3 separate regions of the Homo sapiens genome follow, and all the other regions are linked to region 1. The links come from fine-mapping of genetic effects on gene expression. A gene starts in region 1. Each other region holds a variant in brackets. All regions are shown on one strand. Distances are between the middles of the regions.

Evidence for each region. PIP is the estimated chance that this variant, and not a neighbour inherited with it, causes the effect.
Region 2: its variant is the best candidate, but not a certain one, in a credible set for the expression of TRERF1 in lymphoblastoid cells (GENCORD, PIP 0.51).
Region 3: its variant is the best candidate, but not a certain one, in a credible set for the expression of TRERF1 in macrophages (Nedelec 2016, PIP 0.51).

Annotation. Positions count from the first base shown.
Region 1 is chr6:42,446,684-42,456,949 of GRCh38, forward strand. It overlaps TRERF1 (transcriptional regulating factor 1), which reads right to left and starts at 5,243. Exons shown (of 18, transcript NM_001395490.1): 1 at 4,991-5,243; 2 at 4,494-4,578. It overlaps LOC124900214 (arf-GAP with GTPase, ANK repeat and PH domain-containing protein 2-like), which reads left to right and starts at 5,677. Exons shown (of 4, transcript XM_047419627.1): 1 at 5,677-7,599; 2 at 8,097-8,232; 3 at 9,262-9,471; 4 at 10,053-10,266. The coding sequence starts at 6,138. The coding sequence ends at 7,235. LOC107986596 (a long non-coding RNA gene) reads left to right here and starts at 5,677. Exons shown (of 5, transcript NR_171668.1): 1 at 5,677-5,942; 2 at 7,534-7,599; 3 at 8,097-8,232; 4 at 9,262-9,471; 5 at 10,053-10,266. RefSeq lists silencers at 5,708-5,787, 6,258-6,697.
Region 2 is chr6:42,502,844-42,513,109 of GRCh38, forward strand. LOC124901534 (small nucleolar RNA U13) reads right to left here and starts at 2,763; the gene lies at 2,657-2,763. RefSeq lists an enhancer at 4,401-4,520. The variant C/T (reference allele first, on the strand shown) is at 4,569.
Region 3 is chr6:42,313,366-42,323,631 of GRCh38, forward strand. The region is part of intron 3 of TRERF1 (transcriptional regulating factor 1); the gene reads right to left. Among named protein-coding and RNA genes, the nearest start is that of MRPS10, 100 kb to the left of the region's middle. RefSeq lists enhancers at 1,899-2,566, 2,635-2,694, 3,285-3,374. The variant A/G (reference allele first, on the strand shown) is at 4,800.

The sequences.
Region 1 (10,266 bases):
AGGGCTGCTTATGGCATTAAAAAAACCCTCGTTCCGCAGCCGGGTGTGGTGCCTCACGCCTGTCATCCCAGCACTTTGGGAGGCCAAGGTGGGCGGATCACTTGAGGCTAGGAGTTCAAGACCAGCCTGGTCAACATGGTGAAACCCTGTCTCTACTAAAATAAAATTAAAAGTAGCTGGGCATGGTGGTGCACGCCTGTAATCCCAGCTACCTGGGAGGCTGGGGCAGGAGGATCACTTGGACCCGAGAGGCAGAGGCTGCAGTGAGCTGAGATTGAGCCACAGCACTCCAGCCTGAGTGAGAGAGCAAGATGCTGTCTCAAAGAAACAAACAAACAAACAAAACCCTCGTTCTTTGAGCTCAGAGTTATCACTGTTATTTAGGCACACGGGTTCTTTGTCCCCTTCCTGCTCTATCAAACATATAAAAAGAAATGTTTATGTTGCTAAACCAAACCCCAACAGCTCAGCATATGCTACCCCATGCCAGCTCATCGTCTTCCATGATGAAAGACCAAGAATCATCTGTTTCTTCAGTAAACCAAATTACTACAAGCAGCTACTCTGAGAACTTAAAATTCTTAGAAAATATCACAGAGGCTTTTTGTTGTGTGTTTTCTTTAGCCCAGAAGAAAAGATTTATTAAGAGAGCCCTGGGGTCAAACTCATGTTACTGAGACTATATTATTCCTTAAAAATGCCCACAGCACCCTTGTGGCAACGCACGCCAGTAACTGGAATCCAGCTGTTCTTGTCCTCCTCTCTCCACAAAAGAAATCAACTATTCGTTAGTTCTCCTTTATTTTACTGGTTTCCCTTCAACATGCAAATTCAGAAATATCATTAATCCACAAGATCCCAGATGATTTTAATCCTTCCTCCTCCCTCAGCCACACAGTTTTATGAGGTCGGAAATAAAATGAGCTGAATTCAACCGCCTTTAGAGCAGGACCATGAGCACCATTTATACCGCCTGGGGTATAAGCCACTTGCCTAGATCCTTACTTTTCTTTTTTGTTGTTGTTGTTTTTGTTTTTTTGAGACAGAGTCTCGCTCTGTCACCCAGGCTGGAGTGCAATGGCATGATCTCGGCTCACTGCAACCTCTGCCTCCCAGGTTCAAGCACTTCTCATGCCTCATCCTCCCAAGTAACTGGGATTACAGACCCCCACCATCATGCCCAGCTAATTTTTGTATTTTTGTAGAGACGGGGTTTCACCATGTTGGCCAGGCTGGTCTTGAACTCCTGACCTCAGGTGATCCGCCTGCCTCGGCCTCCCAAAGTGCTGGGATTACAGGCATGAGCCACCGCGCCCAGCCCTAAATCCTTACTTTTCATGGCAATGTCCAAAGTCAATAAAAACATCAAGAGCTTCTCCCAAAAATGCCCATAGTGAAATACAGAGAATCCTGGTGATAAAAATGATACTATATCATTATTATGAACCTTATCACAAATATTCAGCCAAATCCCAATTACCCACAGAAAGCAGGCAAAGCCACACTGGGCTTTCTGGTCTCCAGTTTCTCCCCAAAGCTATCTCCTCCTGCTGCCTGGGAATAAGAGCTTGGTTAACCTTAGACTTGACCAAGGATTAGACAAGTTAACCAACTGGCTGGAGAAGAAACTTCTAAGATGAACAGAAATTATTTTTGGTACCTAGGATATGTACATGCTGCACTCTCTGTTAGTGCATAGAATTGAGAATTTTTTGTCCAAGACACTGGCAGACATTTATTCATAAGTATTTCCTTGTGTTTGATGGTCAAGATCACCAGGCCACTCAAGAGACCTTTCTGGAATACCAAGGATCAAATCCACTTTCTCCATGAGAAGACAAAAACAGAAGTTAATCAGCTCACCCAAGTCCATGAAGCAATTGGCCGTTGGCTCAGGAAGAGACTGTCAAGACCTCTGGAGACCTCGCTTACAAGACACAGAATTTCAGAGCCGGAAGGGAACTCACGGATCAAACCACGCACTTTTAAGATAAAAAATCCAAAGCCCAGAAATGGCTAGAAATTGGTACCTTCCCCACCTTTCTTTCCAGTGATGTTTCCCCTAGCCTTGAGCATCAAACTACTTTAAGTTCTTTGTCACTTTACCAATACTGTAAACTTAAGCCAACTATTGAACACAAGACAATTTTAACACTTCCTGGCTAATCAGCTTCACAGAGAATCCTTACATTTGTCAAAAAAATAACGCTTTCGGTTATTATAACCAACCCACCCATTAAAGAAGGAGAAAAAGAAAATCATAAACAAGCTTTATTTTTTGTGACCACACATTTTATTATACAAGCAGCAAAGAACACTGCAGTCTGTCTCCTCTTTTACACTTTAAGTTCCTAACTCAACAAAAACCACAGGCCCAAGCCGGTTATAGGAGGCAAAACTGAGTACTTTCCACACAGTTCATAGAACAACTGTTTTCACAGCAAGCTCACATAAATGCTATGTGATAATAACACATGCCTGCTATGTGGAAGCCTGCTTACCAAGCTGTGAAAAGACCCATGTTTACTATGGAACCTGCAAAATTAATCTTCTCATACAGCAGAAGGGAAATGCTCTTTTTGGGATGTCAAGCTGGCTTCTAAACAATCCTTTGGCGAAAATGGACATGCCTAAAAGGGCGGAGCCCAGAGAGGTGTGTCACTCCGGGTATCAATTCCTATAAATCAGATCCTGACAATCACCACAATATTTTAAAAAGAACGAATTATGATTCATGGGCCTTCAAGCCTTTATTACCGCAAGAACATTCTCGGTAGAAGAGGAAAAAAAAAAAAAACTACTGTGACTTGATTAATGGCCAAAGCAAGACAATAAAATAAATCTCATAAATATAAGGAAAAAAACCTGAATGACTGCTCTTGGCTCTGAGGCTAGGCATGTAAATAATTCCACCCTGGAATGAACATACATAAAGATTTTGTTTACCCTCCCAGCAAATACAACAACCAGACTCAGATTTTCATCAGGTAAAAATAATAGCTAATTTGCTTAACTAATGCCTAGTTAGGAACATTTGATAAGCAGCAATAATATTTAATTCCCAACTAACTCAACTCTCAAACTGCCAAATATCAACCCTCAATCTGGAAATCTGACGACAGTTAGGAAAGAAAAAAAGCACTCTCCATCAGCAATGTGTAGCGAGTTTTTTAAAACCCATTTTTCTCGACCCTGCTAGAACAGAGCCTGTCTACAGAATTGCAGAAAGCTTAACCAACCTCAGTTAACCCCACTGCCTAGTGGCTACTCCCTAACCCTACTAAACGTCTCCGGGTTGGACCCGAGATGCTAAAATTATCCTAGCAAAGTTAAAACTCCCAGCATCATCAAGGTAGCTGACAGCTAAGACCTACAACTCTTCTGCAGAAACCAGTAGGCTGAGGACCAAGAAAACAGAGGCAAGGAGAGGCAAAGGCTGCTGGTTAACTAGTTAAGCACTGAGGACTCCTGCTGTTATCCTCTCCAGTCAGTGAGCATCAACACCACACTTCCTATCGCCAAACTCCTTTCTTAAAAGGGTCAGTGATGCAGAAGGTGGGTGCTAACTGGGACAACTTAAAACTCCCCTTCTTAAAACTCTCCTCAATGACCTGCTGAAAAGTGCACCTGGACCGGTTTTCAGGAGATATTTTTTAATGAACTCTTTAGCCACTACAGGGGCGGTCATTCCTAAGCACGACTTCCACGCACTCACAAGACAGCCCAGGCCATGCTGAATTGAAGCCATCCCCTTCAGTACTGGCACTTGCCAAAGCTGCGTCTAGTCTGGGGAAGAGTTTCCACAAAGCTGGCTCTAACAGGCCGGTAGAAGACACACGGAGGAACCAGAAAGCGTTTTCTTGTAACCTAAGGATGGCAGGCGCACATGCTCCAGTCCAGTGCTGGCCAGAGGCTGCCTGCCAGGTGCTCTCGGCCTCCGCTGGTGAAGGAGTGGTTTGGTTGGTTTTTAATATCTGTTTCTTAAGACCACCGGCAGTAACTTCCCAGTCTCCCAAACTGAAGTTGGGGAGTGAAGGAACAGGTTTACCCCCTTACACATTTCTCCCATCTGGGTGGCCACACTAACTTCTGGGGAGTACCCAGCCCCCACAGAGCCCGCAGGCGCGTATACATACACATATGTATCATGTCAAAAACCCCAAAAGGCAGAGTCCTGCGGTTTCTTAGCTGGAGAATGAAGCCTTTATAACATCACAACCTCAAATGCAAGCCCACCATCACTACCTTTAAGCCAGGGTTGCCAATTATAGCGCCCACCTCATCCCTCCCCCTTTGCTGGGATGCTGTGCAGCCCGGAGAGGGAAGAAGGGAAGAAGGGAGAAGGCCTGCTTGCATAGTGAAAGTAAAGGGGGGGGAGACTTCTCCTTCTGTCTCCCCACTCTTCCCTCCCCACTTCGCCCCACCCCCGTCTTCTCGAGGAGCATCCCCAAACTAATTTTTTAAAAATGAAACTTAATAAGCTTCTTGCCTACCTTGGCTGTTTCTGCAACAAGTGCATGGGCAATCCGACGAGAAGACCAGTATCCGCTTGGGGGGTGAGATGGGGGGCGAGCAGAGCTGATGGAGTAATTTCAATATTAATTTATGTCAGCCGCCTTCTCTCAGCGCTACTCACTTACTGTACTGCCCTCAGCCTGTAAACAAATATCGCTCCGCCAGGAAACATACTCCCCAGATGCAAGCCCCTCTCCCCAGCAGGGAACCTGGCCCCTCGTCCCCCCGACAAGAGTGTGCTCCCCCACCCAGGGTAGGAAGCTTTGGGTTTCCAAAGCACCAACCCACCACCTCCTCCACCACCCCAGCAAGAAACTTACTCGGTCCGTCTACGCCTCCACCCTCCCTTCAGGAAATCTACTCTCCATATGCATTCAGCCTCCCCGCAGGAAATCTGCTCCCCCCTCCCCCCTTCTATATACATGCACCCCTCCCTCTCCTCCTCCCCATGCGCCCTCCCCGGCCAGAAACTTACTAGTGAGCAAGCGTGCAGGCTCTCCTGATGCTGGAAACTTACTCCCAGATATAGCGCCCGCCAGCCCCCTTTCCCAGCCCTGCTCCCCTTCCTGCCCTCCGCCGCAAGCAACTCCAAACTCTCCGCATCCAGCCGTTCTCCCTCCCCAGTGGAAATTTGCAGCGCCGGGCTGCGCGCGTGCATCCACCCTCCCCTTCAGGAAACTTACTCCCCATCTGCATGCACCGCCTCTCAGCCATCGCTTAGAGGGAAGGGGGTGTGCTGGGGAGACAGAAATACATATGTATCTCTCGCCCCTCCCCCGGTCGCAGCCCACTCGGGGCCGAGCCGCGGTAACCTGGCCTTACCTTTGCATTGCTCCCCATCCTCGCCCCCTCCCTTAACCCTCCTTATCCGCTCCCCGGTACCCCCCTTTTTTCACCCATTACCCACCCCTAGCAACCGTTCCCAAGCTCCTCTCGGCCTTTTTTTTTTTTTTAAATCCAGGATGCAAATTCCTCCCTTGTCAGCAAATCGACTGTCAAATTATTTTCTTGCAAAAGGAGAAAGGCGGGGTGGGGGGGGGGAGCAGGAGCAAAAAGAGGGGGAGGGCGGGGGAAGGGAGGGGGAAGGGAGGGAGAGGGACCGAGGAGGGGAGATATCCCTCCGCAGAGCTGGGTCTGGCCGCGGGCGGGGAAGCAGGAAGTAAGGTGTCCAGCGCCGCGACCGGCTGGTCGTCCGCCTCGGCCCCCGCCCGCGTCCCCTTTCCCCCGGGGCGCAGCGCTACGGCGGGCGCGGGCCGCCCGGCGCATTGTTCGCAGCCTTCGCGGCGGTGCGCTGCTGACTTTATTTGTGCGCTTTGCGTGTGCGTGAGGTTGCACCTTTTGTAGGCTGGCGAGTCTCTGGACGAGGATGGGACGGGGGACACGGGCCCAGTTGCGGCCCTGCGCGAGCGGGACCTGTCAGCCCTGAGGTGCAGCGGACCCTCCGGCATGGCCGGAAAATCGAGGCCGGGGAGAAGGCAGCGTGGCCGGGAAGCTGCCGCCTTAAACCCGGACCAGTGCAGGATTGCTTCCTGCGTAGCCGTCCCGGTTATTGTAACACGCTTTGCAAGCTAACGACTGGGGTTTGTGAGGGGGTTTGTTTATTTTTCTAAGTGTTTGCAAAGATGCCGAGGTCGAGGCGGGCTGCGAGGAGACGGTCCGCGCCTACCCCCACCGCACCCTGGCCTCGGTGGGGCTGGGAGAGGGCTGGGGCTCCGGAGAAGGGGCTGGAGGTTCGCGAAGCGCGCGTCTCCATCCCTCCGCCCCGATGGGGGCGGGGAAGGGGTGCAGTAGACCGCGCTGGAAGAGCAGCTCTCTGGGGAGGGGTCTCCCTTGCCGCGGCAGGCGCAGCAGGCCGGGGAGGGGGGTTGCCTAGGAGAGGGGCCGGGCGGCGGAGGGGAGGGGAGGAGAGGGGGCGCGGGTGCAGCCGCCGCGCGCGCTCGCCCCTCCTCGCGCGCCATGACTGTGGAACGTGGTGCCGGGGAGGAGGGACGGCCACCGGGGGCCGCCCGGGGCTGCTCGGCATTGGTGCGGAAACCCGAGCCCGGAGTCGCTCCCTCGCGCTGTCTCCTCCTCCTCCTCTGCGGGGGAAACCGCTGCACCCAAACCGGGAGCAGCTGCGAGCAGGGGGCAGGGCGCGGGCTGAAAGGCGAGCCGAAGGTTCAAACCTCCGCGGCGCGGGCGGGGGCGGAGGGCAACAGCAGGACGGCCCCCAGGTCCCGAGAAGGCGTGGCAGTGGTCGGCCCAGGTGTCAGGGAACCTGGCCTGAGACCCCTGCATTTCCAAGCTTCTTTCCTGGTCAGAGGAAACGTGAACCAAAGGTAGTTCAGCTAAACAGACCACCTCGAGCCGGGTTCGAGGCATCTGTCTCGAGGGCAAGACAGTATTTTTTGCACGACAGAAAGTTACACCATCCATTTTTTTCCGTGGGGGAAATCATTGCGCCCCTTCCCCCAAAATGTCGCGCAAGAAGAATGACCTCCCGCTACCCAGACCTTCGCCAGTGTCCCCCACCCCACCCCCACCCGGGCGCTGGGTGTGGATTGGGCGGAGGGAGGCTATATGGGAGCTTAAAGCATGAGGTCATGAGCGGAGGAGACTGCTGCCAAAAGCACCCGAGGTTTTTGTGTTTTTTGAGGGGTAACGGTTCTCCATCTTCAGCAGTGGAAAGTCCTCCCGCCTACCCTACCAATTCTGGGGCACGTGGACCACAGAGTCCCTGAAAAGAGGAGGGGACCCGGGCTATTTCGCTTAATGAGCGTTTGGCGCGTGCCCAGCCCTTTATGGAGCCCTTCCACATAAGCAAAGAAAGCCGAGGGACAGCGCACAGTGTTGCGGCGACTGGGAAAGGCTTCAGATGCTCGATGTCCCCCGCCCTCTTTCCTCAGTCCTCGGTCATCTTCCAAGTGGGCTGCTTTCTGCGATAGCTTCCTGTCCCCCTCCGACCCATTCCTCCCAAGCGACTAAAACTCCTAATGACATTATTTTAAAGCCTTCAAAACCCTCTTCCATTGCCCTTAGAATAAAGCCAAGTTGTGATTTCGCCTCTACAGACCTCTCTACCCGCCCAGCTCTTCCTCGGATATTGTAAGCCCCGTCAAGCTTTCTTTGTTCAAGGGGTGGAGGAGGGGGCGCCTAACCTTTCCCCTTCCACCTCTTCTTACTAACTCCTGCTGGACCTTCAAGATTTGACTCAACTGTCAGTAACTTCAAGATGCCTTCCTGAGGGTACACCCAGGTCTCTACCTCAGGGGAAAAGACCTACCCTAGGTCTCCTGGCAGCAGCGCTGTGGCCGGAGTTGGCCCCAGTGGCGGCCTTTTTCCAAGCGGAGGAGGAACAGCCAAGCTAAGCTTGACCACCGTCACCGCCCAGGGACCTGAGCGGGAGCTGGCTAGGACAAAACCTCAAAACGGGACTTGGGAAAACCGCACCACCCAGAAAACTCAGCCCCTCCACCTCCCTCCCAGCACACACACACACCCTCTTAATCTAAAACTCCTCCCCGGGGCAGATAAGGAACCTATTCGGAGAGTTAAGTTAATTGCCCCAGGTCAATGTGGAAATTCACAGCCTGTCTTTCCAGCTCCTAAACCAGAAGCTGCAGAGAAGGAAGGATTTGGGATTTGCGGCTACACAGCCAAGGACGCTTTTGTCATCTTCAAAGGACCCCCTACACCCTACACGCTTGGCCCGCTCTGTTCATTGCCAACAGAGTGATGGTAATGCCAGATGGTTAGCTCTGCAGGCTCTGACCTTAGGCAAATTACTTAACCGCTTGGTTCAGTTTCTTTGCCTGTAAAATGGGAATGATAGTATTCATATCATAGTGTTATTGTGAGGTTTAAATGAGTTATTTTATGTAAGGCCTTAGAGTTTAAAGCAAGTTACTAATATTTGTGAATAGGGTTGTGTATCCTCCCCCGCCCCGCCCCCCCCCCACCTTCCAAAGGACTCTAGAAAATCAGATCCTCAGAGTCTTAGCTGATTGAAGCATCAGAAAAATATCTATGGGGCCAGGCGGGGTGGCTCACACCTGTCATCCCAGCGCTTTGGGCGGATGAGGTAGGCGGATCGCTTGAGCTGAGGAGTTTGAGACCAGCCTGGACAATGTAGAGAGACCCTCTCCACGTTTATTATTAAAAAATAAAAAATTAGCCAGGCATAGTGGTGCATGCCTGTAGTCCCAGCTACTGAGGAGGCTAAGGCAGGAGGATGGCTTGAGCCCACGGGGTTGAGGCTGCAGTGAGCAGATTGCCCCACTGCACTCCAGCCTGGGTGACAGCGCAAGACTCTGTCTCAAAAAATAAAATTATATATATAGAGAGAGGGAGAGAGAGAGAGAGAAAGAGAGCACCAAAAGGACTGGGAAACACCGGCAGATGCACAGACAATGCATCCCTGATTTTACCAATAGACTTGACTCCCAACAATGCATACTCTTGAAGGCAATCCACAGGTTGAATAAACCAAGTCCATGAGCGCTGGGTCTGGAATCTTTCTACAATCAGGGTCAGAAGGAGGGTGACTGAAATTAAAATATTAGCTTGGATCTTTGAAATCAGAGTCAGGCTGAAAAAGTCCCAATCTTAGTTCAAAACCTGTCCTGCATGACTGAAGCCCTCCTAGGGCTGCACAAAGTATAATGGAATTATTATTATTATTATCATTAGATCCTAGTCTTACCATTCTCAGCACTTATCCCCATAGCAAAAGACCATTTTTTAATGTAATTTATTCTTTTGGAATAGGTTGAATGCATTCACATGGTTCCAAATTCAAATAAACAGCAAGAAGTCTCCCTCCCACCCTGTCTGCCACCCACTTGGTTTTCCTTCTCTGGAGGCAACCTGGGTTAGTGGTCAGAAGATGCATTTAACTGTTTTCCAGCTGAGGCCTTGTGAGAACTCCTCGGACACCAATTTAAATCTTTATGTCCAGAACTCCTTTCTCCAATCCAGGTAGAGCCACTCCCCTATCCTATCCCCACTCCCACCCTTCCCCCCTTCAGCCTCAATCCTAAGCAGGCTCTATTAACAATGATGAGCCACCATTTCCTCGAGCTACTAACAAATGCAAATGTTTAAATACTTTGTGGTTCTTTTTCCTCTTCTACATTAATTGCTAACATTTATCGAGGGCTTTCCGTGTGCCACGCACTGTGCTAAATACTAGGCATGCATATTCTTATTTAATCTGCCCCAAATCTTCATCATTATCCTTATTTACAGATGCAGACAGAAATGAAAGTTCAGAGAGATTATGTAATTTGCACCAATTTGCATCCAGGCCAACCTGAATCCAAACCCTATCTCTTTTTACTTTTTCTTTCCTTTTTTTTTTTTTTTTTAAACAGGGTCTCACTCTTGTCAGCCCAGATGGCATGCAGTGGCACAGTCTATGGAGGCAATCAGGGTTAGCTGTCAGCTCACTGTGGCCTCAACCTCCCAGGCGCAAGTGATCCTCCCACCTCAGCATCCCCAGTAGCTGGGACTACAGGTGTACGCCACTACCCCCAGCTAATTTTTGTATTTTTTTGTAGAGATGAGGTTCCACCATTCTTGCCCAGACTGGTTTCGAACTCCTGGACTCAAGCGATTTGCCTGCCTCGGCCTCAAAAAGTGCTGGGATTACATGCATGAGCCACCACACCCGGACCCTCTCTCTTAAATAGTGGCCCTTTTGCCTCTCTGCAACACAGGAAAAATTCTGTTAGCCTGCATCAGAAGGAGTGGCATGGAGGCTTTGGAGTTAAG
Region 2 (10,266 bases), 56 kb after region 1:
CCTTCAAAACTATAAGAGAATAAATATCTATTGTTTAAGCGTCCCAGTTTGTGGTACTTTGTGATGGATGCCCAAGGAAACTGATACACCAAGTAATCCTACCAATCACTCTTGCCCCACTCTCCACCCCATTTTTCATCTTTCCAATTTTTAACTGTAAGATTCTCAAGTTCATGATAATGTAGAAGCCTTTTCCATCTCTCTTGTAGGTGACAATAACAAATTGACCCGATATCACCCCCTACTTTTAGCCAAGAGAAAGAAATTTACCACAAGACAGTCTTTCCTACTTGGTGTACTTGCAGTTGAAACTCAGTGTTCCCTCCTAGACATCAGGTCATTGTGATTCAACTCTTTGAGTCTCAGTTGATTCATCTAGAAAATAAGAATGATAATACTACCTCCTACCCAACAGAATTATCATGAAGATCCATAAAGATGAGTGTCTTCGTCCATTTTCTATTGCCCTTTTTTTTTTTTTGTCTCGCTCTGTCAGCCAGGCTAGAGTGCAGTAATGCCATCTCAGCTCACTGCAACTTCCCCCTTCTGGGTTCAAGCAATTCTCGTGGCTCAGTCACCTGAGTATCTGGGATTACAGGCATGTGCCACCATGCCCAGCTAATTTTTGTATTTTTAGTAAGGAGGTTGTTTGCCAGGCTGGTCTCAAACTCCTGGCCACAAGTGATCCACTCACCTTGACCTCCCAAAGGGCTGGAATTATAGGCGTGAGCTACCGTGCCCAGCCCATTTTCTGTTGGTTATAACAGAATACCTGAATCTGGGTAATTTATAAAGAAAAAAAAATATTTCTTATAGTTATGGAGGCTGAGAAGTCCAAGGTCAAGGGGCCACATCTGGTGAGGGCCTTCTTGCTGGTGAGGACTCTGCAGAGCCCCAAGGTGGCATAGGGCATCACATGGCGAGGGGGCTGAGCATGCTAGTTCAGGTCTCTCTTCCTCTTCTAATAAAGCCACCAGTCCTACTCCCAGGATAGCCCGTTAATCCATTAACCCACCGATCAACTAATCCCTTCATGAGAGCAGAGACCTCATAACCCAGTCACCTCTTAAAGACCCCCTCCTCAATATTGCCATGTTGTGGATTAAATTCCAACAAAGTTTTGGAGGAAATAAATATTCCAACCATAGCAATAAGTTTGGTAAAGCCTCTTGCAACAGAGCCTGACGCAGAGTTGGGGCATTATATTTTCCTTATGCTAAGTGCCACTAAGATAATATTAGCAACTATGACACATATAGAAAGTAATACATGTCATCACAACTTTTGCACCGGTTATCCAATTCTGTGAAGATACCTTAAGAAAATAACATAAACTACTGAAACTTTACGCTTGAAAAATGTTCACCATAGTAATCCTTTAAAAAAGACACTGGCAGTAACCTGAATAGCCAACAATGGGGGAGTGATTACATAAATCTGCATTTTCCAATGTATATATATTTTTTACTATGCAAATGTTCTTTATCAATTCATATATATAAATATACTTATAAAACTTGTAGTATTTTAAAATATTTTATAATTTCGTTTTCTTTTTATTTAACAGACACATATAATGCTTATTATGTACCAGGCACTGTTCTAGGCATTGTTACAGGCACTTCAAAAATATTTAGAATATTACACTTATAAATATTAGCTCATTGATATATGTTTTACAATTTTTTGTAAAATTGTTTATGTTTAAAAAAGTATTACAATTCTACAAAAAATATTAATTTAATATAATCCAATAATATTCATGTTATTAAGACAAAATTCAACTTTCTGTTTAACATGACACATACTTTAAATCAATTATGTAAGACAAAATATAATTTGTGATTTACATTTCGAAATGGAATTGTTTATTATGGTTAGTTTAGGGACCAAGCCTATATTCAGTATAGATTAAAAGTAACTACATGCAGCTGGGCGAGGTGGCTCATGCCTGTAATCCCAACACTTTGGGAGGCTAAGGTGGGTGGATCACCTGAGGTCAGGAGTTCAAGACCAGCCTGGCTAACATGGTGAAATCTCGTTTCTACTAAAAATACAAAAATGGCCGGGCGCTGTGGCTCACCCCTGTAATCCCAGCTCTTTGGGAGGCCGAGGTGGGTGGATCACGAGGTCAGGAGATGGAGACCATCCCGGCCAACATGGTGAAACCCCACCTCCACTAAAAAAAAAAAAAAAACATAAAAATTAGCCGGGAGTGGTGGCGGGCGCCTGTAGTCCCAGCTATTCCGGAGGCTGAGGCAGGAGAATGGCGTGAACCCGGGAGGTGGAGCTTGCAGTGAGCCGAGATCGCGCCACTGCACTCCAGCCTGGGCGACAGAGCGAGACTCCGTCTAAAAAAAAAAAAAAAAAAAAAAAATTAGCTGGGCGTGGTAGCACACGCCTGTAACCCCAGCTTCTCTCGAGGCTGAGGCATAAGAATCACTTGAACTCAGGAGGCAGAGGTTGCAGTGAGCCAAGATCAAACCACTGCACTACAGCCTGGGCAACAAAGTAAGACTCTGTCTCTAAAATAAAATAAAAGTAACTACATGCTATGGCAGTCAAATGGACAAAAGCTATTGTGATTGCCTAGTGTTTAGAATTTTTGCATTTTAGCTTAAAATATCAACTTTTTTAAATTAAAAATTTCTTTTCACATCAGATGAGTAATGTGCTGATGTCATAACAAGGAAGTTTGAAGGAGTCACATCTCACATATTAGCATGAAAACCCAATCATCACCCTTATGAATCACAAACGGATCTCAACTGTTTTATTTTTGGACATTTTATGTTTTGTTTCAAAACAAAGAGATGAGAGATTTCAGGCTGTCATTTGCAAACAATTTTCTACAAGTACATTTGGAAATGGAATTGGGGTATGGATAATCATTATTCCCAGTAAATGAATTGTTCCTTGCTATAGTTTGAATGTGTCCCCTAAATTTCTTTCTTTTTTTTTTTTTTTTTTTTTTTTGAGACACGTCTCACTCTGCCATCCAGGCTGGAGTGCAGTGGTGCAATCTCAGCTCACTGCAACCTCCACCCTCCCGAGTTCAAGCAATTCTCCTGCCTCAGACTCCTGAGTAGCTGGGATTACAGGCACCCACCACTATGCCCGGCTAATTTTTGTATTTTTAGTAGAGATGGGGTTTCACCATGTTGGCCAGGCTGGTCTCAAACTCCTGACCTCAGGTGATCCACCCATCTCGACCTCCCAAAGTGCTGGGATTACAGGCGTGAGCCACCGCACCTGGCCAGCATAATGTTTTTAAGGTTCATCCATGTTATAGCATGAGTCCGTGTGGAATTTATAACAGTCCAATAGACTTCTTAGGTGTTAGTCCCCAGTGTGTTGTGCTGAGCGGGGTATGGACTGAGGCACTGGCTTATCATCTCCACTAACCCTGTGTGTATCCACGTGACACACATCCAGAGGCTCTCATGCTGCTCAGCTTTAAAGGGGCAATGTTTCAAATTAAAAACTGAGCTACTTTTTATTTTTTGAAATTAAAACAAATGCCATTGCTGTCTTTGACAATGTGACCCCCCCCTGGAAAGATGTTCATGAATCCTCTAGAGAATCACGAGCACCTTATGGGACCCCCATGAGGTGGACCTTTTTGCAGCCATTAGATGTGATGCTCATGAAGACAAAATCTACGAGAAAAATGTTTATGATCTAATGTCACAGGGGAAAGTGTAATACAAGGTCATAGTATGCTATGAAAATTAGAGGAAGACCATTTAAAACTGCGTAAAGACACTTCTGATGAGAAGACAGAAAGGGAATGTACAAAATAATAACAATACCATGCTGGATGGTAGAACCATGGGTACATTTTTTTCCCTCCTGAACTTTCCAAAGATCTGTAATGTGCTTATATTACTTTCATAATTTAAACAATGATCACTGGCCTTGAGCAGCTTTTTGCTCAAGTCAACCTTGGTTCAAGCCATCACAAAAGTACATGCAGACCCTCATGTATCAATAGATAGGAATCTTTAAGTTAAATGATTGGAAAATTACACAGGAACCACTTTCTAATGTTCACTTTGGAAAGATAACTGCCATTGGCTTGCCTTTTAGAAGACAGCTTCTTTTAATGAGGCCCTTTTTGTACTTCATTAATCCACCCCCAACGGCCTTTAATTAGACCAAATTCTGTTTCCCACACACTTCTTTAAACAAAAGAACAGTACATTCATGTAATGTACCAGGCCACCTATTTAGCCCACCTGTTTTAATGTGTTGGGAAGGACATCGGCTTGGTTGTTCAGGAGGTCTGAGGTCTAACCGTAGCTGTGTGGACTCTGGCAAGTGAAACTCCCTTCTGAACTTTTTTCTTTCTCATCTGTTCCATGTGAATGGGAGTCCTGACTTCTATGGAGCTCTAAGTGAGAAGGAAATTCTCAGCTCCTTAAATGATCTCTGTATTTCTCATAAGTAGACATACTCAGGCTGAAAAGCAGGAAAGTAGAAGTGTGATCAAAAGGCTGGAAAGCAGGAAAGGGAAGTGTGATCAAAAAGGGTTCACATGAAAATAAGCAAGACAGGAGAGAAAGCAC[C/T]GGAGGGTGAACCTCAGGAGACCTGAATTCTACTCCCAGCTCTGCCACTGGTCACTGGCAATCCTGAGTTAGTCATTTCCCTTCTTTAGGGCTCAGTTTCTTCTTCTGTGAAATTAGGTGACAGGTCCTAAGGCCCCTCCGGTCACAAATTCTATATATATATATATTTTTTTTTTTTTGAGATGGAGTTTCACTCTTATTGCCCAGGCTGGAGTGCAATGGCGCGATCTCAGTTCACCACAGCCTCCACCTCCTAGGTTCAAGCGATTCTCCTGTCTCAGCCTCCCGAGTAGCTGCGATTACAGGCATGTGCCACCACGCCCGGCTAATTTTGTATTTTTAGTAGAGGCGGGGTTTTTCCATGTTGATCAGGCTGGTCGTGAACTCCCGACATCAGGTGATCTGTCCACCTTGGCCTCCCAAAGTGCTGGGATTATAGGCATGAGCTACTGCGCCCGCCCCCCTCCCTCCTGTCACAAATTCTATTAATATGTGATGCTATATCACAGGACAAGGATTGCCTATTTAGCCTCACTTGGTTCTTACAGGACCTCTTTGTTATTCAAAGGACTCAGCAAAATGTTGACTTTTTAATCTTTTAATTCATTCTCCCGTCATCTGTGAAGTAAATCAGAGGAGAAAATCCAGATCAACATTCCCATTTAAGCCAGTTTCTTGAGGCTGATACTTAACAAACAATAAACTGATGAATCATGAGATGGCCTTGGAAAATATTAGACACTTAAATCTTCTCAACATTTTTCAGGAAATAGGCTGTAAATGGGGGAAGAAAAAAATGTAAATGTGTTCAAGATGGGGAATTGTCTTAAATAAAAATAACTACATTTTATTTTTAAATTAAAAAAAAAAATACTTCCCCTGCAAGAACACTTAGGATGAGAACAAAAATACTATTAGGGTTTTTTTTCTTTAGAACTCACAGCCAACTCTTGCTAAACAGAGCATTTTGGAAAATTTGCATCATGGCTGCAGATTCAGGCAAGGAGGGTGGTTGGGATGGGTGACTTTTCCAGCCACTTTCCCAGTTACTTGGTTTCCCTGATGGTGACACTCTGCTGTAAAACCAAATGCCACAATCATCAGGGGAAGGTGTGGGGTAAAAGCATGGAGGTGGCAACGTTTATCTTCCGGCTCAGTACCTGGTTGTCTCCTGCAGTGGCAACTCCTCTAAAAAGGTGCCCACTAAGGCCAGGCGCAGTGGCTCACGCCTGTAATCCCAGCACTTTGGGAGGCCGAGGCAGGCGGATCATGAAGTCAGGAGATCAAGACCATCCTGGCCAACATGGTGAAACCTCGTCTCTACTAAAAAAAAAAATACAAAAAATTAGCCGGGCGTGGTGGCAGGCGCCTGTAGTCCCAGCTACTTGGGGGGCTGAGGCAGGAGAATATTGTGAACCCGGGAGGTGGGCTTGCAGTGAGCCGAGATCGTGCCACTGCACTCCAGCCTAGGCAACAGAGCAAGACTCTGTCTCAAAAAAAAAAAAAAAAAAAAAAGGTGCCCACTACACCCATAATCCTTTTTGTTTCTTTCTTTTTTTCCACACAGTCAAAGCTTTTTCCCAGGACAAAACTTCTAAGTGTATTGTTCAGATCTATAAGTGATCGAGCATGTCCTACATGGCGTTATATGTTCCCTATGTTGATAAGCTTCTACAGGATTCAAAGGCAGAATTTTCCAGCTACAGTTACAGTCACCAGCCTGGGTTGAGATAGCATGGGGATGTGAGAGGAAGGGGTGTTTCTAGGGTCTATCCATCAGGGTTCAGTTGCAGAAACCACTAGGGCTAACTTAAACAAATGATTCCTTGACAAGAGAAATAGGTACTTAAAAAATTGTTTGAGGGGCTGTAGGAAGAGCCCTACGGTGACCTTCCAAGAATGACTCCCCAGAACAAGATGGCAGAAGTGGCCCATAAGGGAGCTGCTTCTTCTGTCACTACAATAAGTTGGAGAATCAGGAAATACCAGAAATACTAGGATCACATCGTTCCTGACACCCACAAAGCTAAGAACCAGACACTGGGACTCTTCCCACTTCTGTCACAGAACTCCATTTATCTCCACACATGTGCATGCCAGGAGAATGACAGAGAATAGCAGAACTGTGGCCCCCACCTTATATCTGTCTTCCAAACTCCCAAGTGAGTTTCCTTGATGGACTCAGAACTCAGCTCTAAAGGAGTCTAGGAAATTAATAGTCTTTCTCTTTTTATCTGAAGCATTTAGCAAGGCATATTAGCGGAAAAATTACCCCCACTTGTTTCTGCCCTGGAATCCTATAAAAGTTGATCAACCTTGGGAACATATAACCCATTGTAGGGTATTCTCAACCACTTATAGCTCAGAACAATGCATTTCAAAGTTTTGCTGGGAGTCGGAATGGAGCTGAGTGGGCCTATCTGTAATATTTGTCATGGAGTGGGGAAAAACACAATTCCCCCTAGGCCCCTTAAGGTTCACTATGATACACCAAAGCCAGCCCTGAACATCATCATGTGTATAAGAAGAATCTATGCAAAGTGTAAGACCTTCTGGTGGGGGAGGACTCTGAGTACAGAATATAAATCACTCTTGGCTTCCCAGAGCTTACGCTGACTCATTTGAGAAACAGAAAAAGTGACTGGCAGGCCAACATATACATACACATGCATATAATATACATATATGCACACACATATATATGAAACTTTTGAAAAAAATGCACTAGGGAATTTATTATTTGCATATTTAAAAAATCTACCTTAGATAGCATCAGTATGTAGAGGCTAGGGACATGTTCAATTCCAACATTTATTGAGGGCTGACTGAGTACCAACTGAGGGCTAGATACATCCATGCGGGCTTTTCCATTTAGTCTTCATAATATGTGAATGTAGAATTCCAGAAGCATGAGATAGCTAGACACATAGATATCCTTGGATATATAAAACAGTTATTAGATTTCCCTGGCTGGAAAATTTAGGGATAGAAACTGAGTATGTGTGTAGATGATGCATTTATCTTTATTGAGAAAGTGAGCATTGAGAGGAAGGTGCACTCATTTAGAGAAGATGTCGGATTTCCAAAATCAGACATGTGGGGAATAAATATGTGTAGCTCACATGGCATTGCACTGCTGATGATCATCTTAACTATAATTTAAAGGTTAGATTATAATTTAATGGTGTTATGAATGAAGTGTTATGACCTCGGCATACTGCCTGGTTGATGTGTGCCTGTATATGCACACTTGTGTGTCTTGGGGAGGGGGACGTTCTGTTTCAGAAGTCACCAAAAAGAAAGTTATTCTTCTACTTAAGAGGAAGCAGTAAAACACTAACCCACTGACACAACACATCACAAAACACAGAACACAGAAGTAGCTGGTCAGAACTCTCATATTCAAAGGCAGATCTTCCATCTCCAGCAGCCAAAGACTTAAGCCATGTTCCGGGTAAAGTAACAAGAGGAAGGTGTTTTTCGGAACCATCCTGAGGAAATCAAAGGCTTTTGGGGGGCAACTGAATGGGTAAGGATTCTGTATTTATAGGTAGAATGTGTCCAAGATGGATGGAGGAAGACCTCCTGATTTGGGAGGTAAGTCTTGCCACCAGGTGGCACACACTATTGTCTTTCTTGTTCTTTTTTATTTCTTTAATTTTCTATATTGATAGTAATAATAATAATGGTATCTATTGAGTTTTGTTTTTGTTTTTGTTTTTGTTTGAGACAGAGTCTTGCTCTGTCACCCAGGCTGGAGAGCAGTGGTGTGATCTCAGCTCCCTGCAACCTCTGCCTGCTGGATTTAAGCAATTCTCCTGCCTCAGCCTCCTGAGTAGCTGGGATTACAGGCACATGCCACCACACCCAGCTAATTTTTGTATTTTTAGTAGAGACAGGGTTTCGCCATTTTGGCCATGCTGGTCTTGAACTCCTGACCTCGGGTGATCCACCTGCCTCTGCCTCCTAAAGTGCTGGGCTTATAGGCGTGAGCCACCGCTCCTGGCTACTGAGTTCTTATATATGTGTTTGGTATTTACTACCTCATTTAATAGGCATGTCATTGTTCTCATTTTACAGACAAGAGAAGGACACTTAAAGAGTTTACCAAAGCCATAGAAAAAATAACCATGGACTCCAGGATTTAAACCCAGGTCTGTCCCCAGAGCCTGAGCTTTTAACCACCATTGAGGTCCTAGCATCAGGACCGAGTCAACGAAACTACTGTGGAAGTAGGCCCAGTTCTAGCACAAATGCAGAGAAGATGTGGAATAAAGTATAATCCAAATAAATCTCCAGGTGCTAGGAATGAAGAGAACCATCAAAGGCAGAGCAGCTAGCTGAGCTGATGTCATAGTAGCCCAGAAGAATATGGATCTGGAGTTAGGGCCGGGGGCTAATACCTGTGAGAGGACAGGAGGAAGGCAGCGAGCCCTGCATAAAATTGAAGGCCTTGAGCTGGCATGGTGGCACATGCCTGTAGTCCTAGCCACTTGGGAGGCTGAAGCAGGAGGACCGCTTGAGCCCAGGGGTTTGAGGCCAGTCTGGGCAACATAGTGAGACTCCGTATCTTAAAATAAATAAATAAATAAATAAATAAATAAATAAGGCCTTGTGGCACTCTTCCCCCCTTAAATGGAGATAGAAAAACTGGACATGGGCCCTGGGAATCAGCCAGGAAGCTCACCATTTGTTTAAGGTCTGGAACATGAGGGGGAAAATGTCATCCAGAGAAACCTAAACCCTGGGCCTATGCCATGTGCATAGGAGTGAGGGCCATTGACACACTCAGCATTCTGGCAGAAGCAAATGTGTGAATCATCTCCGCGGAGAAAATGTTACTACTCAAGAGTTTCAAGGATTCCCATTGGGAGAAACAACCTGCTGAAGACAAGTTCACAATAAAAAATTACAAACACCCTACTATGCTGGTGAGAGTCAAATCCTGTCTAAGATTTAAAGAGTGAAAAATAGGTTGGACTGGAAAAAGAAAGAAAAGAAAAAGCAACTGTCAATTCAAGCCAGAAAGAAGACAGACATAAAGAAAGCCAGCTGCAAAGTTCACAGGAACATTGCTTCCCCCAAAGTCAGTCGGCAGCTGTAAAATGCCATAAAGACCCCCTCTTTGAACGTTGACTGCTTTCCTACCAAACTCCCAGACAGCTTTGCCATACCCACCTATTGCTGGTTAGCCCATTGCTGAGCTACTGCTGCCTCATGGCAGCACCCAATACCTACTTAATCCCCACTTCTCTTAACTGACCCCACCCCCAACCAGAGTAGGAGCAACCAATCCAGAACTGATGCCTACTTCCCTTAGAATCTTCAGAATCCTTCAGCAGCTTCCTGTCTTCCCTCTTTGGAGCGACACTCCACATTTCCCCCGGAGTGGCCTCCCTTGCTGGACTGAGTTAATAACTAATTTGGTCAGACTACAGACTGGCTCCTGATGCTCCGTGGTGATTAGATTTTTATCAGTAGAGAGTTAGCATATGCAACAAACAGAAAAATTGGCACTTAACCAAAAGTCAATAGAGAATCTAGAGGATGCTATAAATAATAAGTTGACTTTAAATGATTAAAGAAATGATGGTGATAATGATAATGATAGCAAACATATAATGCTGTTCTAAGGGCTTCACAAAATATTAACTCATTCAATCCTCACAAAGTTCCTGTGAAGTAGGTACTATTGCTT
Region 3 (10,266 bases), 130 kb before region 1:
TTCACATCAGTTTTCTTCATATGACAAGCAGCCAGGAACTCAATTGCTAAGCCTCATCTCTCTCTCTCTGTTTCTCTCTCTTTCCTTGGAGCGATTACATAAGCTGGAAAAGGGGTCTTCTCTGCAACATCCTAACTCTCCCAAGAGTCCCTCTCCATCTGTCACCTGTAAATCTGAGCCTTCCCAGTAACGCTTACCGGGATGCAAACGTGCTCAAGTTGTGCACTCTCCTGGGATGTGGGCCCCAGAACAAGGAATTCCCTTGAAGACCCAAGGGCCTTCACTGAGCCCCAGGAGTGGGATTTCTGGCAATGTGACCATATGAGGGAGAACCTATTGGGGAGGCTGGCAGGGTTGGCCAGGTCTCTGAAGGCATATGTGGTGGGGCTTCCTTGAAAGACCTTGGATTTCAACATGTTAGGATATGTGGGCCTCAGGAACTCTCCTGGTCATATTCAGGACTTCCTGGGCTCCAAGCGGGGAGGTGCTGCAGACTCACTTCTACGTTGCCTTCTGAGAGCCATGGTCTTTATGGATCATGGAGGTAAGGACAGGGATTTTGAGACAAGGATGAGAGCCTATTAAGAGAAAAAGCAAAGGAATGAGACCGGAAGCCGGGAGAGATGAGAAATAAACAAGATCCTGGGAAACAGGGAACAGCTGGAGGTGCGGCCCTAAAGGGTTTTTTTTTTGTGCTTATCAGGCACGCCCCTTTCTGGAGAGGTGCCATAGTGGTGGTCCTGACCTCTTGTGGCTCATAACTGAAGACAAACTAATTACTTTTAGACAAATGCATGTACATATTAGGAAATGAAAACCTCCACCATGGCATGGTAAGTATAAGCTTCAGCTAAATTCAGAACCCTAGCTGATGCCAGTAAAAAGAACTATTAGCAAATTCACTGCTTTGTGCTTTGTAAACATCTCTATTCACAAGAAAACATGCTTTAGAGTATGAGTCTACCCTGATCGAACTCTTCATCAACATAAATCCCTGGTTTTACAACAAGAAGCCAAGCTCACCCGATGCTTTCAAATGTGCACAGTTAAACTAGGGCAGAGGTCCCAGCAAGCCTTGCAAAATTAAGCTCATGCATCTAAAAAAATACTGGCCGAGTGCCTCAATGCTAGGCATTGTTCTCCGTGACTGGCACGCAACAGTGAACAAAGAAGACAAAACTCCCTGCCCTCATGGAGATTTCATTTTAATAGGGAGAAACAGAAAATAAAAATTATTATAATTAAAGTGTATAGTGTATTAGATGGCTGTAGATGCTATGGGAAAAAACAAAGTAGGAAATAGTCAGGGAAGCCCTCTCTGAGAAGGTGACATCTGAGCAAATGCCTGAAGGAATAAGAACAATGAGATCTGGGGAAAGAGCATTCTAGGAGGAGGAACAGCAAGAGCCCTGTGGTGGGTACATGCCGGATGTGACTGAGGAATTAGAAGGGTGTGGCTGGGACAGTGAAAACCAGGAGGAAAGCAGTAGGAACAAGGTCAGAGATTCTAAACGTGATTTTAAAACAAAACAGAAGTATAAACTTGATGGAGCGAATAGGTTGGTCGCATAGGGTGCTTAGGAAAGGCCAAGGTAAGGAGGTGTCAGTTGAGCTGAGACCTAAATGAGCAAAGCATGAAGATGTGAGGAGAGAACGTTCACAGCAGTGGTGACAGCGAGTGCAGTGGCTCTGGCAGGGATGAGCGTGCATGTGGCAGGTGTGCAGTGGGTGGGATGAGGCAGCGTGGTAGGACGGGGTCTCCATTATGTAGGGTAGTGGTCTCCACCTGGAGTGATTTTGCCTTCCAGAGGACATTTGGCAGTGTCTAGAAACATTTCTGTGTCACGACTAGGGAAGTGCTATTGGCACCTGGTGGGCAGAGATGCTGCTAAACATCTTACAATGTGCAGGACAGTCCCTTTCAAGACAGAATTCACTAGCTCCAAATGTCAATAGCACTAAGGTTGACAAACCCTGGTGCAGGGCCTCACAAGTCACAGTAAGAAGTCTGGGTGCTCACAGAAGCACATGCCAAGGACTTTCTAATGCCTCGTGCCTGCTGGAGTGTGATCCTTACACGTGGCACATCCAGGTCTAGAGTATGGCACATTGGGATGAAAGAGAAGGGCGCTAGGATCGGCGCTTAGAGCACAGAAGCAGGGGTAGAGGCAAAGAGGCTGTGACGAGGTCACCCTAACCTAACTTGGAGCTAAGAGGGAGCTCCTGGAGTAGAGACAAAGGAGGTCAAATGAAGGGGGGCCATCGGGCTGTCTTCTAGCAGCTGATATCCTTCAAGAGACCAGGTGGGGCCCCTGGGTCAGGGTTGGGGAGAGGAACACCACCCCCCCCCCCACCCACTGCCACCCCCTAACGTCATAGTGAAGTGTCTGAGGGCTGGAGAACGCTGCAAGTCTGAGCAGTGTGGAAGGCACAGGTTGGGACCAGTGTGCAGACAGCTCAAGGCTCAAGAAGGACATCACCAGCAGAAACACAGGCAGAGGCTGAAGAGGAGGGACTTGGGTGGGGGTGCTCTCCTTTCAGGGGAGAGGACCCCCACACCTACCCTCACGGTACCTGGAAGATGCACATGAGGACCCAAGGGAGGCCTAAAAAATAAGAGGCTGTTTTGGGATGATCTCAGATTTGGTTCTTCCTGCAGAATGAGTTGTTCTCTGCTCCACTGGGGGTGGGGGCACCTGGACGTCAGGCTGCCTGGCTAATGGGTCTACACAAATGACATTTCGAGTCACAAGTTATTTAATTTCTCCGCCAAAGTCAAGAAAGTCCATGGGTCTGGGGAAGTGGCTGTGATGACCAATGACTCTGGCACGCAGTTAACCCCAAGCATGCACCTCCTCCTCCCCGCATTGCTAATCTTGATGATTCATCCAGAGAGGCTGGTCTGCCTCAGTGGAAAGAAAATCTAGGTGAGGGTCTCATTACTAAGAAATGAGAAAAATGCCTCAATGTAGAGGCAGGTCAGAACCCTTCCTGGTCACTATCCAAAGAAGCTTTTCTAACTTGGGGAGGACAGATGAAGGGGACTGCCTCATAGTGACTTTGTTCTAACAAAATTTTGGATGGCATTTTCAGGTGCCTGCTTATGTGTGCACAAGCAGGCAGACACCTTCATTAATACTCTTGAAACCACCTTTGCAAAGATTATGACAGTGACAGGAGTCTAGCATGGCTGACTCCATCTTGCCTCTAGCCTCACAAGCCAGCTGTCCTCCCTCATTCCTGGGTGTAGACCAAGCTAACCATGGGAGGAATTTAGTTTATTGTTTTAACTTTGAAGCAAGGATGATAACAGTCCCTCCCTGAAACGAACCCCCTCCTTGCTCAGGGACCAAAATCGCCTTTGTCTTGGTAATGAAAGGCCACAAGATTAGGATTATGGGAGGGGCCTGAATTCTGCTAACATGTAGGTGTAGCTAAAGGATAACCAGCCATTCCCCTCCACCGCCCCCAGCTTGCCTTTTTATAATCCCTTGCTACTCATGAGTCATGTGGCCAGAGGTCACAAGATTTGTGACTTCCCCAATTGCTCCTATAGATAACATCACTATTGTAGAACTTAAGATGGGTCTTTTGAGATGCTTTTCAGACTTTTGCATTCTGGCAACCATCTGACTCTACCTGGACCTGGGACTCATGACAACCTGTCCTGTGGCCCCCTAATGTAGAGGCTGACTCAGCACACAAGGACCATTTTCCACACCCCTACGATTTCAACCTTCACCAATCAGCAGCTCCCATTCCCCTGTCCACAAAATTATCCGTAGAACACCCTAGCCTCTGAGTTCTCTGGGAGACCAATTTGAGTAATAACTCCAGTCTTTCTGCTTGGCTGGCTCTGCCTTAAACTGTTTGTCTACTACAATACTGTGGTCTCAGTGAATTGGTTTTGTCTGTGCAGGAGGAAGGAAGAACCTGTTGGGTAATTATACCCTCACTCAGCACTAATTTCCTCCTCAGTAGTTTTTGTTTGTTTGTTTGTTTGTTTTGAGACAGAGTCTTGCTCTGTTGCCCAGGCTGGAGTGCAGTGGCATGATCATGGCTTGCTGCAGCCTCAACCTCCCAGGCTCAAGCAATCCTCCCACCTCAACCTCTCAAGAAGCTGGGACTACAGGTGCGCACCATTATCCCCGGCTAATTAAAAAATTTTTTATAGAGACAGGGTCTCATTTTGTTGCCCAGGCTGCTCTTGAACTCCTGGGCTCAAGCAAGCCTCCCGCCTTGGCCTCCTAAAGTGCTGGGATTACAAGCGTGAGCTCCCAGACCTCAATAATTTTTAAAATAACAGTCTTCTCCACATCTAAAACATGTTCACTGTAAAAATTTTAGAAAACAGATACAAAATAAAAAGAAGAAAAACTCCATCACTTGTTGAGAATTATTTTTTTTTTTGCTAAACTTTTTAAGATATAGTTGAGATTATATTGTATACATAATTTTGAATCCTGCTTATAAAATAAGCATTTTGTCATGTTGTTAAAAGTTCTAGGCTAGGCACGGTGGCTCACACCTGTAATCCCAGCACTTCAGGAGGCCGAGGCAGGCGGATCACCTGAGGTTAGGAGTTCAAGACCAGCCTGGCCAACATGGCAAAACCCCGTCTCTACTAAAAATACAAAAATTAGCTGGGCGTGGTGGCAGGCGCCTGTAATCCCAGCTACTTGGGAGGCTGAGGCAGGAGAATCGCTTGAACTTGGGAGGTGGAGGTTGTAGTAAGCCGAGATCACCCCACTACACTCTAGTCTGAGTAACAGGGCGAGACTCTGTCTCCAAAAAAAAAA[A/G]AAAGCTCTTTGTAAATACTAGTTTTAACCATTGAATAATAATCCACTCTAACGCTACAAGAAATAGAGGTCCATATTCTCCAAGGTCTTATTTCGCTGAATACAAGTAGTTTTAAACCAGCCCCCAACACTGAATACAGGAAATTTCTGAGCACTTAATAATGAGTGCCAGGCACTCTACCCCTACCATGTAGGGTGGCTGTGGGGAGGGCTAACATTGGACTGACATAGACAAAATTTCTTTCTTTTCTACAGTCTTGGGATCTCTACACTTCACTTGGTGGAGGGTCATATTCCACTGTTTTCAGTGAAACAGCCAAGACGAACCCTTCATTCAGTTAAGAGGAAGCTCCAGGCTCTAGTTAGGCACTGGAAGTAAAGGAAATGTGGGTTAGGTCCCAAGAAGCAGAGGTAATGTGGACAACTGAAAGGCTCCAGAATGGATACTCAGGGGCTGGACAACTACAGCCTGAAGGCCAATCCGCTGCCTGTTTATGTAAATAAAGCTTTATTAGAACATAGCCACACCCATTCATTTCAGTATTATCTATGGCTGCTTTCAGCTGCAACAAGCAGAGTTCAGTAGCTGCAATAGAGACCATGGCTGCAAGCCCAAAATATGTAGTACCTGGTCCTTGAAGACAACATTGTTTGATTCCTGTATTGGGAGGCCAACCATCCTCCAAAATAGATGCTCTCCCTTCTTTGGCTAAGAGTCCTCACTTAGAAGTACTCTGAAGTGTGGCCAGCCAGAGACTACATTTCCCATCTCCTCCTGCAGCAAGGTGGAACTCCCTGACCAGTTCTCTCCAATGAAATGTGGGCCAAGTAACTTGTATCGCTTTTGGGCCAAGGTGGTTAAGAAGCAGGTGAGCCTTCTCCATCTTCTGTTTCCCTTCCACCTGAATGAAGAGTCCTCATAGGCCTGTGGCAGTGTTTCTCCACCTTTTCTTCATTGTTGCCCTCCTAAGGGGACTTTTTAGACATTTTTTTTCCCTAATTACTTTCCTCCATGACATTTTCACACCACAGATATACTCTATATCTGTTTATGTACCATGTAGATGTTTGTGATTTATGCATCAAAATGTAAGATTTTTCAGCCTCCAAGATCTTTGCCCCCTTGGGCATGATACTGCCCCCATTAAAGATGCATGCTCCAGAGTATAGCAGAGTGACAGAGGCAAGGCATGTAGATCCCTAAATTACCTTGTAGAGGAAAGCCAGTTACAACCAGAAACACTTGCATTGACTGTTACAAGGGCAAGAAATAAACTTCCTTCATGTTAAACTCCTGAAATGTGGGAGATGATTACAGCAGCTAATGTTGCCCTAACCAATACAAGCTTTTAATTTGATTGTTAAAAAAAGTATGAGCCTGGCACACTGGCTCATGCCTGTGATCCCAGCATTTTGGGGGGCTGAGGCAGGAGGATCACTTGAGCCCAGGAGTTCGAAACTAGGCTGAACAACATAGGGAAACCCCATGTCTACAAAAAAATGTAAAAATTAACTGGGTGTGATGGTGTGTGCCTGTGGTCCCAGCTACCTGGGAGGCTGAGGTGGAAGGATTGCTTGAGCCTGGGAGGTCAAGGCCATGATTGTGCCACTGCACTCCAGCCTGGGTGACAGAGTGAGACTGTGTTTCAAAAAAAAAAAAAAAAAATGGTGCATTCAATAGACATATAATAATATAATGCTATATATTATATTAAATACATTATATCATTATTATTTTTTGTTTGTTTTTGTTTTGAGATGGAGTCTCACTTTGTCTCCCAGGCTGGAGTGCAGTGGTGTGATCTCAGCTCACTGCAACCTCTGCCTCCTGGGTTCAAGCAATTCTTCTGCTTCAGCCTCCCGAATAGCTGGGATTACAGACACCCATCACTATGCCCAGCTAATTTTTGTATTTTAGTAGAGATGGGGTTTCACCATGTTGGCCAGGCTGGCCTCGAACTCCTGACCTCAAATGATCCACCTGGCGGCCTCCCAAAGTACTGGGATTACAGGCATGAGCCACCGCACCCAGCCATAACTAAATTATATTATATTATTATATGTCTATTCAATCAAACTTTTAATCCTAAATATACTCCTTTAGGGTTTAGGACAGGTTTCCTAAATCCTAAAGGGGTAAATTTAGGATTAAAAGTTCCTACTTTAGGTGGTGGAGCGTTTAGCCTATTGGCTCTTACATTGACATAGGACAACAATTTAAACAGATTCAAGAAGGGTTGAGATCAATTCTGAGCACAACCTATTAAAGACGAATACGTTAACTGTATTCATTTATACCCTCTCCATTTGAACACATCACTACCAAAACAAAAGTGAAAGAATTTTTTTTTTTTTTTTTGAGACTGAGTCTCGCTCTTTTGCCCAGGCTGGAGTGCAGTGGCATGATCTTGGCTCACTGCTACCTCCTCCTCCTCCCAGGTTCAAGCAATTCTCCCTACCTCAGCCTCCTGAGTAGCAAGGATTACAGGCGCCCGCCACAACGTCCGGCTAATTTTTGTATTTTTTAGTAGAGATGGGATTTCGCCATGTTGGCGAGGCTGTCTTAAACTCCTGACCTCAGGTGATCCACCTGCCTCGGCCTCCCAAAGTGCTGGAATTACATGCGTAAGCCACCGCACCTGGCCTAATAATTTTTTTTAAAAGGCATAACTTCAACAATAAAGGGAACAGGTGAGGGCTACCCAGGACAGAGATTGGGACAACTTTGTGGAAAACAGACAGAATATGGAAGATTAGAAACTGATGATGCAAGCACAGGAAGCCTGAGCTCCAGCGCTCAAATATTATGAGATTCCATTAGCCTGGCAAAATGGCCACAGGCTCATGACTCAGAGACGCCAGAACAACGGAGGGCAGGAATCAGATAGGAGGCTGAAAAGGGGGGAATTTTATAAAATCTGAAGTCAGAAGATTTGCACCCTTCATAGGTGGCTCATGAGGCAGCCAGGTTATCTATTCTTCCAAGCCAAAAAAAAAAAAAAAGGCATTTTCTTCTCTGGAGAAACTGAACTAACCAGCCCCAACCCTGAGACCCCCCTAAACCCCACCCTGAAAAAAACATTTGAGATCCAGGAAGCAGTAGAACCAATCTAGTAAAGTAGTAGAGGAAATCTCAGGTGACAGCTCTGTAGCAGACCTAGAATGAAATCAAATTTGAGAAGAATAGAGGACCCTGGGAGAAAGGGATATATAAAATACCCAACTGGCTAGAGAGTTTGAGAGAAAAAAAATGAGGATATAATAACAGCAAAGTTTTTAAAAAAAAGGCAATGAGAAAGTCTTGGAAAAATTAAAGCTGTAAAAGAAAGTATCCATAGTATATTACTTGGCTCCAAAGAGAATAACACATCAAGCATCAGGGTCACACACTTAAATGCCTTCAGCGTCATGCAAGTAAGTAAATAAATGAGCAAGTCAGGTATTGGAACACTTGCATATACTGCGAGTGGTAGGAACTGTGGCAAACTAGAGTAGGAATGCCTATTCTAAAGGGGACAGACTCCAGCAGAGTGTTACTATATGTGGGAAGTCAGACCATATGTGCCAGAACTTCCAATTTTTAAAACAAAACCCCAAACTCTAAATCTTTTATAAAAAAAACTCTACCAATTTTTAAATGTTGGCTGTAAGCCTAAAAAAAAATCACTAGGCAAATCAAACAAGTATGTCCAATGGTGGATTGTCAATGTGCAACTTGTCATTTATGCAATCACAATAGCATAAGCCCTATCTGCTAGTTTTTCAGCCTTTAAGATCAACCTGTAGATAAAGCATAAAAGACTGAATGGCAGCTACAAAATAAAAATGTAAATGTTTTCAATCTTAACAATGTAAAAGTAAAAGCAGAGATGACAGAAGTTGGAAAGTAGAAGGCAAATTAGGTAAGAACGCAAATACTGCCATTTTACTGCACCGGGACTCAGGAAGTACTGTTGTTAAGAAACAAGAAATATGATAGTAAGAATCTTACTTATAAAGGTAACTAAGCAGAGGAACTATAAATAATAATACAACTTTGTTGTGAGGATGTGGGGAGGAGAGGTAGAGGGATGGTATAAGGGAGTTAAGTTGTTATCTATCATAACAGAAAGTCAACAAGTAATTTCTAAAATAGGAGTAAAATTAAAGCACATTATTGAAAATATGGAGGTAAATGCCATAAACTAAACTAAAATAAAATAAAATTGAGTTAAAAGTGCCTCCAAGCAGTAGGTCTGGGTTAGGAAGGGAAGGGGCCAGGAGACTAATTTTTATTATAAATTCCTCCGAATGCAAACCCCCTGCCCCAAATAAAGCAAAATGCCCTTTTCAAGAAAATAACACAGATCAATTCGTGGGGTTGTATATTGGGACAGATAACTAAGCCTGCTAAGCTTGACTCTCAGATACTATAGAGAACGATCAAAAGAGTTTAAATAAAAATAATTTAATAAATGAACAAGTTATAGAGGTGTGGGGAGGATTAAGGCAACCAGCAATATATGGTGCAGCATGCAGAGACTAAGTATGAGACTAAGTATGAAGGGCAAGAAGGCAGAACAGTGTTACTGTAGCCCAATGCATCTGGAGGACTGGAGCTGTAGCTGTAAAAGATAGCCGTTGCCAGAAAACTGATGAGGCTGAGAGGAAGCAGGGGGATTAACGCTCCCTGCTTTCTGCCTATTCTTGGATCTCCTACTGGTGCCTCCTACTGGCCAAACCCAACCACACCTGGAAGGTAAAGTAAAGGAGCCTAGTTGACACAATCCACTGAGGTTGGTCTCCCAGGCCACAGCAGGGCAGAGAATGGCACTGGGAGGGGGTGGGGGGCAAGCAGAGGATAACTAGCACCTATTCTCACACTCTCCATTATCCTGCCCTCTCCATTGCCTATCTGAATGAAAAAAAAAAATGGATTCAACAAAACATGTATTTGTCTAAGAGTGGTAAATACTGACCTCCTCTAGTTCAGCAGCAGAACTAAGGAACTGTCAGGAAGAGTTGATAAAGGAGGTGCAACTTTCCCCCAGTTTTTTTTTTTTTTTTCCTTTTGAGATGGAGTCTCGCTCTGTCGCCCAGGCTGGAGTGCAGTGGTGTGATCTCGGCTCACTGCAACCTCTGCCTCCTGGGTTCAAACGATTCTTCTGCCTCAGTCTCCCAAGTAGCTGGGATTACAGGCATGCACCACCACGCCCGGCTAATTTTTGTATTTTTAGTAGAGACGGGGTTTAACCATATTGGCCAGGCTGGTCTCAAACTCCTGACCTCGTGATCCACCTGCCTCGGCCTCCCAAAGTGCTGGGATTACAGGTGTGAGCCACCGCGCCTGGCCTCCCCCAGTTTTCATTAGGGATACTGATGGATAACTTCCATAGGTCAGCCCTGCATTCTATCATGGGAGAGAGGAAAGATACCTATGAAGCAATAATCCCAGCAATTTGACAATAGGGAAGGTGAGACAACCATG